Linked DNA regions of Homo sapiens. The protein of the gene in region 2 interacts with the protein of the main gene of each other region in a pairwise test. Each region holds a gene or a part of one and is shown on either strand. Other genes may lie near its edges.

Region 1 (2,831 bases), on a different chromosome or scaffold from region 2:
CATAGTATCCTCCAGCTTCATCCATGCTGACACAAATGACAGAACTCCCTTCTTTTTAAAGGCTGAATAGTATTCCATTGTATCTATGTGTCACATTTTCTTTAACTTTTCATCCATCCATGGACACGTAGGTTGATTCCATGTCTTGACCATTGTAAATAATGCTCCAATGCATATGGGAGGGAAGATATCTCTTCAATATACTGACGTCATTTCCTTTGGATGTATACCCAATAGTGGGATTGCTAGATCATATAGTTGTTCTATTTTTTGTTTTTTGAGGAACCTCCATACTGTTTTCCATAATGGCTGTACTAATTTCCATTCCCACCAACAGTGTACCAGCATTCCTTTTTCTCCCCATCATCAACACTTGTTACCTTTTGTCTTTTTGGTAATAGCCATTCTTACAGGTGTGAAGTGATATTTGGCACTTGATGGTTAGTGATGCTGAGCATTTTTTTCATATACTTTTTGGCCACTTCTATGTCTCCTTTTGAGAAGTGTCTATTCAGGTCCCACGCCCATGTATCCATTTTACTTGGATTATTTGATTGTGTGCTATTGAGATGTTTGAGTTCCTGTGTATTTTGGATTTTAACCAAAATCTTGGATCTTTTGAATATTGACCCTCATTCTGTAGGTTGTCTCTTCACTCTGTTCATTGTTTCCTTTGTCATGCAGAACCTTTTTAGTGTAATGTAACCTCATTTGTCTGTTTTTCCTTTTGTTGCCTGTGCTTTTGGGGTCATAGTCAAGAAACCATTGCCCAGACCAACATCATGAAAATTTTCCCCTATGTATTCTTGTGGTAGTTTTACCATTTCAGATCTTATGTTTTAATCTTTAGTCCATTTTGAATTAATTTTTACATATGATGTGAGATAAAGGTCTTATTTCATTCTTCTGCATGTCAATACCTACTTTTCTCAACACCATTTATTGAAGAGCTGTCCTTTCCCCATTTTGTGTTCTTGGTATCTTTCTCACAATCAATCAACTGTAAATGCATTGATTTATACCTGGGTTCACTATTTTGTTCCATCAGTTTATTTACCATTGTTGTGCCATTACCATTCAGTTTTGATTACTATACTTTTGTAACACGTTTTAAAATCAGGTAGTACGATGCCTCCATCTTTGTTCTTTTGTTTGTTTTGCTTAAGATCACTTTGGCTATTTGAGGTCTTTTGTAGTTCCATACAAATCTGGGCGTGGTGGTGCGTCGCCTATAATCCCAGCTACTCGGGAGGCTGAGGCAGAAAAATCGCTTGAACCAGGGAGTTGGAGGTTGCAGTGAGCCGAGATTGTGCCACTGCACTCCAGCCAGGTGACAGAGCAAGACTCTGTCTCAAAAAAAAAAAAAAAGACACATGAATATACATAACAGTCAGGATGTCCTGATGGGAACCATGAAGAATAGTTAAGTGACAGGAGATAGACAAGGTTGGTGGGGCCTCTCGGGGATGGTGATTTGGGCTGATATTTAAAGTTGGACAGGGCCAGTCTTGCAGAGAGCCAGGAAGAGTGCTCTTGAGAAGGCCCTGAAGGAATGAGAACCCCAGGTTTCGGGGGCTTGGGGAGACTGAGCGAAGACAGGGGGCCACTGTGGTGAGTGGACAGCAAACAGGTCAGGTGGACCAGCATGGGCAGATCACATGTACAGTAGGTTGGATGTTATTTTGTGAGTGACGGCGTAAAAAAAGTAAAATATCTCAATGATGTGTATTGATTACATGTTGAAATGTAGTATTTCAGATATTTTAGGTTAAAACTATATTGTTAAAATTAATTTGGCCTCATTCTTTTTACTATTTTAATATGGCTCTCATAGAATTTGAATTTTGCATAGAATTTGAATTTTGTATTATATTTCTGTCAGCAGTGCCAGTCAAAGGTATGTAATAGATGCTGAATGGATGACAAGACCAAGCCTGGAAGAGTGGATTTCTCTGTCTCAATTCCAGTGAGGGCCAAAAAAGAAGTTTCCCCACCACTGTCAGCCTCTGGGAATTCTGTGGTGACTCATTCATTGGCTTTTCTCTTCCTTCCCAGGATCTCATAGATCAGAACATACTGGAGCCTGTAACCCGTGCACAGAGGGTGTGGATTACACCAACGCTTCCAACAATGAACCTTCTTGCTTCCCATGTACAGTTTGTAAATCAGGTACAGAATGTGTGGACCTCTTGTCCAGAGGTGGAGCGTGGGGCAATGAGGTGGGAGTTGTAGCCGATATGAGTCAGGGAACCAAGTTCCAGCCCAACCTGGTCTTCATCACCCTGTTCTATGATTATATATTTGACTGATTAAAAAAATAGAAAGAAATCTTTTCTATAATGCATGCCACCTGGCTGGGAAATCGTCTAAACTGTCAGCTGCAAGAGGGTGGGGGGATCATTAGAGCATAGAGAAGGCCTGGCCCAGTGGACAGGGCTAGGTTTCAGTAGTGGCACGGGTCTGCTCCAGGGCCAGGCTCTCTCCCCCAGGCTCTGTGCTCCTGGCAGGTGCTCGGCCTCACTCAGCCTTCAGGTTCTCAGGCCCCTTCCTCCTCCCCAGCAGGCCCAGGCTTTGGGGAAGTCCCCCAAGGCCTCCGTCTCCTTGCAGAGTCTCTCAGGTGATGCCCTTGCACCTCCCTTGCTACTGACCATGCCATCTAAACAATGCTTTTCCCCTAATCTGATGTAATAAATAATGAATTATGCTCCTTTTTATGACTCCTCTGAGTGCTGGTGACAGCTGAAGGGTGGGTGTCCTGTATGAGCCCTGAGTGTGCTGGTGCAGAAACTGGCCCTTAGAACTCCTTGGTGAACTTGGTTGAGCTGAGTGGG
Region 2 (4,587 bases):
CACTGGCCATCAGAGAAATGCAAATCAAAACCACAATGAGATACCATCTCACACCAGTTAGAATGGCGATCATTAAAAAGTCAGGAAACAATAGGTGCGGGAGAGGATGTGGAGAAATAGGAACACTTTGACACTGTTGGTGGGAGTGTAAATTAGTTCAACCATTGTGGAAGACGGTGTGGTGATTCCTCAAGGATCTAGAACTAGAAATACCATTTGACCCAGCCATCCCATTACCGGGTATATACCCAAAGGATTCTAAATCATGCCTCTATAAAGACACACACACATGTATGTTTATTGCGGCACTTTTCTCAATAGCAAAGACTTGGAGCCAACCCAAATGTCCATCAATGATAGACTTGATTAAGAAAATGAGGCACATATGCACCATGGAATACCATGCAGCCATAAAAAAGGATGAGTTCATGTCCTTTGTAGGGACATGGATGAAGCTGGAAACCATCATTCTGAGCAAACTATCACAAGGACAGAAAACCAAACACCACATGTTCTCACTCATAGGTGGGAACTGAAAAATGAGAATACTTGGACACAGGGTGGGGAACATCACACACCAGGGCCTGTCGTGGGGTGGGGGGAGTGGGGAGGGATAGCATTAGGAGGAATACCTAATGTAAATGATGAGTTAATGGGTGCAGCACACTAACATGGCACATGTATACATACATAACAAACCTGCACTTTGTGCACATGTACTCTAGAACTTAAAGTATAATAATAAAAAATAATAATAAATAAGAAAAAGTATACATTTGCCACTTTATCAGACCACAAGTTGAACTGAAAAGAACTAGGAACAGTGATAGCCTTGAAGGGCTAGCCCATTTTCCATATACTGCCTAACTCACTTTGGTTTGATATACAAATATTATATCATAAAGGTTATTTGAAAAGTTCTATACCTTAGAGATCACCAGGGTATAAATATATTTTTCCATATTGTTCTGTGAGTTTAAAAACTTTATACAAGGTATTGGTATGTATCTATTAATCTAAAATACTTAAATATTTTCATTATGGTCCTTGCAATGGATCTTCCTCTTTCCGCACCTTCCTTCCCCATTGAAGAAGACTCTGCATAAACCATTTAGATTACACCAAATAAGTATCATTTTTCATATTTCACTTCTATTTCATTAAGCAACCCATCTTCCTAGCTTCTTTACTAATTAGCCACTAAACCCCAGGCTTTTCTTTACAGTTCAGTGAAAATACGTGTAGCCTAAGATGTCCTAACTCCAAGGCAGGGGGAGGAGGAAGGGTAGAACTTAGTCAAAAAAAGAAAAGGATGCATGGAAGGATAAGAAGAAGAAACAGAAAGGCTCCTAGAGTCTGCCAAGAGCCCACGTTCTGGCTCACAGGTGGGAGCGCAACCTTGCTAGGCAAGTCCTAGCTTGCAGACAGTATAAAATAAGAGCAGACATGAAGAAAGGAATTCAGGTACCTTCCTTTAAACATATCTCTTCTGCAAATGTAGTCATCCCTGATAAAGTACAATTAGAGGTAGGTAGACGTGTCACAATGAAGTCAGATAACTTTCCTATTCACCATTTTGTCAGAGCTGATAAAATTTAGAAGTGACCAAGTTCTCTGTGTGTTCTTGCACTCACTGAAGGAACCAATAGCAGTAAAACTGTCCCTGTCTCAAAATGGTAGGAAGCAGAGATTTCATAAAAGTTTTCTGAAACTACGTGCCTGAAGGGAGGAGACAGTTGTTAAACCAGCATAGAATCATAAAACTATTTTGTACTCTTAACATGCACACTTCACTCACCCAAAATATTAGTTACGAATTATCCTAAAGAAAAAAAAAAGGGTATGAAAGCAGGTGGGCTGCCATTCTGTATAGGCAGACCACACCCCATACTCTACCTGCGCCCACCACTAGGGCTCTGGGCCCACAGGCGCGGATGCAATTCAGGAGGGAGTTGGAGCGAATGTTGGTGTTGAGAAAGGCCACCACGCAGCCCAGCTTGGCGAGGCCGAACCACACGTGAACGAAGTCCGGCTCATTGCTCATCAGCAGAGCCACCGTGTCCCCCTTTTTCAGAGAGGAATGGTTCAGGAAGACATGGGCCACTCTGCTGCTCCTTTTGTCTACATCCTGATAGGTGTAGATGTCTCCCTCATAGATGATGAAAGGTTTCCGAGGTTGTCTTTTGGCATGACTCAAGAATTTATCCAGCACAGTCACCAGCTCCCCTCTCTTTTCATACTTCTTCAGCCGAATTATAATGAGCACCACCTTCAACACGAACCAGAAGTCATCCCAAAAGTAAGGGAACAGGAGTTTCTGCAAGAAGTGCAGGACGACCATTCCAGCCCCTAGAACTGTTAGCCATGACAGAAGCATGGGGGCAACTGGGCCAGAAGACAGCTCTGATCTCAGCCCCCACCAGCGTCCTTCTCTTCCAGGCACAGCTCTCCACGGAGACCGCAGATCCTCACTACTCAGGGCTTACACCTGAAGTTCTTGTCAGCTTTTCCGGGGCGAAGCGGGATGGGGAGGAATCCTGAGAAACAGAATCGTAGGTTTGCACCGAAAAGGTCGCCCCAAGTGGTGCTGAAGATTAAGCTTGGGTCACTGGGCGGCTGGAAAGCAGGGAGCCTCCGACTCCTGCGAGAAACCAACACAGCCACCCTCAGGGGTCTTGGAATCTACAACCCCAGCGCTGCGCCCTCGCCTCCCAACCGCGACAGCGGCCCGTGCCCTGCGAGTTCCCCAGGACTTTCCAGACCTCTTCTCTGTGAGGGCTGAGTCAGTCCTCCCTGCTTCTGCGACCCTAAACAAACCTCACCACCCTCAGAAGAAGGTCCAGGGACAGAAGCTTTTCTCCTCTCAGGTAGTCTTTCCCGCGAGCTTGAGTTGGAGGCTGAATTCGAGCCGGGAAAAGCTGGGATGATGATGACTGAGAAGCGCAGCGATTTACAGTCTCTACGCACCAGAAACCGCGCAGGGGCTCAGCACCACGTCTCGGTCCGTGGCCTCAGGGCCAGCGGGTTCCAGGGTTCCTGAGCGCCGCCCCCGTCCTGCCCCGCCCAGCCCCGCCCAGTCCCTCTGACGCAACGGGTCCCGGAGAACTGCTCCTTGGTGACCCACGCGCCCGCTGGAAAGGGGTGCCCCTACCCCAGCCGCAGCTCGCACTCCGAGTGTCGTTAGGCTAGCCTAGTGTATTCTCCTCCGAAACATGGTGGGAGTGTTGCCTGCCCACCTTCGGCCTCCAGGCTCAGGGCTAACCACATCCCCTGGCGTGCCGCAGCCGGAACAGCCTGGGCCCCGCCGCCAGCTCCTCCCTGGGCGCGCGTCCGGCCACCTAGAGAAGTGTGGCGCGCCGACCTGCTCACACCCCAGGGAGGAGGCCCCGCGACTGGCGTCTCCGGCGGGGAAGAATGTGACAGTCCCGTGGGGGGAAACCCAGGGATCTGGAAGGCTTGGGGTCACAGGAGAACCAGAGTTGCTGGGATTGGGCGGCGCGGGGGCCCTGGCGAGGCTGATAAGGTATAACAGTGTCGCACAAAGGTCATCCATTGAACCAATTAATAACTAGAAAATGGAAAGAAAAGAACAAACATCAAAAAAACTGCAGGGAGAGAGAGGCAGGGAGGGAGGAAGAGAGGGCAGGAATATTTATGAACTGGACAGATCCAATAATATTTTGTAAGAAAGAAAGGAATATTTGGACACCACAAAATTGTACTGTTCTTTACAAAAAGTATTTTTGAAAACATGTTGATAGGTTGGTTTTTACATTTATATTAGAACTCTATCGTTAGAGAGCTAAGACAGTGCGTTTTACAAAATTTGGCAACAATATTGATTGATTTGAGAGCTTCAGTCGATATTCGTATTTAAAAATAAAAACAAAGTTTATAATGCTATTTGCAGTCCTTAAAAGTAACAAGATCCCCCCTCCCTGAGACAGATCATTTAAAGAATTATGTCTTCAAACTAAGGATTCTAAAGGGAGTGGGGAGGTGGAGTGGAGAAGTAACAAGTTAGTGGAATGGTTAATAAAATTTTATACGAAGATGAAATTTTACTAAAGATCAAAAAACTAAAGAACATTTCATTACACTTTTTTTTTTTAGCAGACACCATCATCCCAGCTGTCTGCTTTTAAGTGAGTATAAATGGTTAATTGCTTGTGTTAAAATAGTTAAGGAAGGCCTCACCTTGTTAGGTGTTTCTCCCTTCTGCCTCATGTTCTGCAGATGGATTCTGGCTAACCTCAGATTCTGTAATAAAAGAAAAACTGATAATTCCAAAGACGAGCTCCAGTTTATTAATCTGAAAATGATTACTTTGAAGTCACAGTGAAGAGCTCTTAAAGCCAAAGGAACATAGGCTCTTAAAGCCCTTTTCTGTAAATGACAAAAAAATGCTTTCTAAATTTACTCAGAAGCTTTGATCTTTTCGATTCAGAAATATCTTTTTAATTAAGAAAATAGTATCAAGTAGTTTATAACTTAAAACATTAGTTTACAACTTGAAAAGCATCTTTGACATTCTATTGTTTTCTCTTCTAGCTTTAGTCTAATTAAGTCACCTCCAAATAACAACAT

The links.
Region 1: the proteins of SLC27A6 (region 2) and TNFRSF10C interact in a two-hybrid assay, tested with the Homo sapiens proteins (one large-scale study listed by BioGRID).

The regions. Positions count from the first base shown.
Region 1 is NC_000008.11:23,112,602-23,115,432, forward strand, and holds part of TNFRSF10C (tumor necrosis factor receptor superfamily member 10C precursor), read left to right. Parts: intron 1-2,055; coding exon 2,056-2,169; intron 2,170-2,831. UniProt on the Homo sapiens protein: Receptor for the cytotoxic ligand TRAIL. Lacks a cytoplasmic death domain and hence is not capable of inducing apoptosis. May protect cells against TRAIL mediated apoptosis by competing with TRAIL-R1 and R2 for binding to the ligand.
Region 2 is NC_000005.10:128,963,928-128,968,514, reverse strand, and holds the start of SLC27A6 (long-chain fatty acid transport protein 6), read right to left. Parts: upstream 3,028-4,587; 5' UTR 2,378-3,027; coding exon 1,897-2,377; intron 1-1,896. UniProt on the Homo sapiens protein: Mediates the import of long-chain fatty acids (LCFA) into the cell by facilitating their transport at the plasma membrane.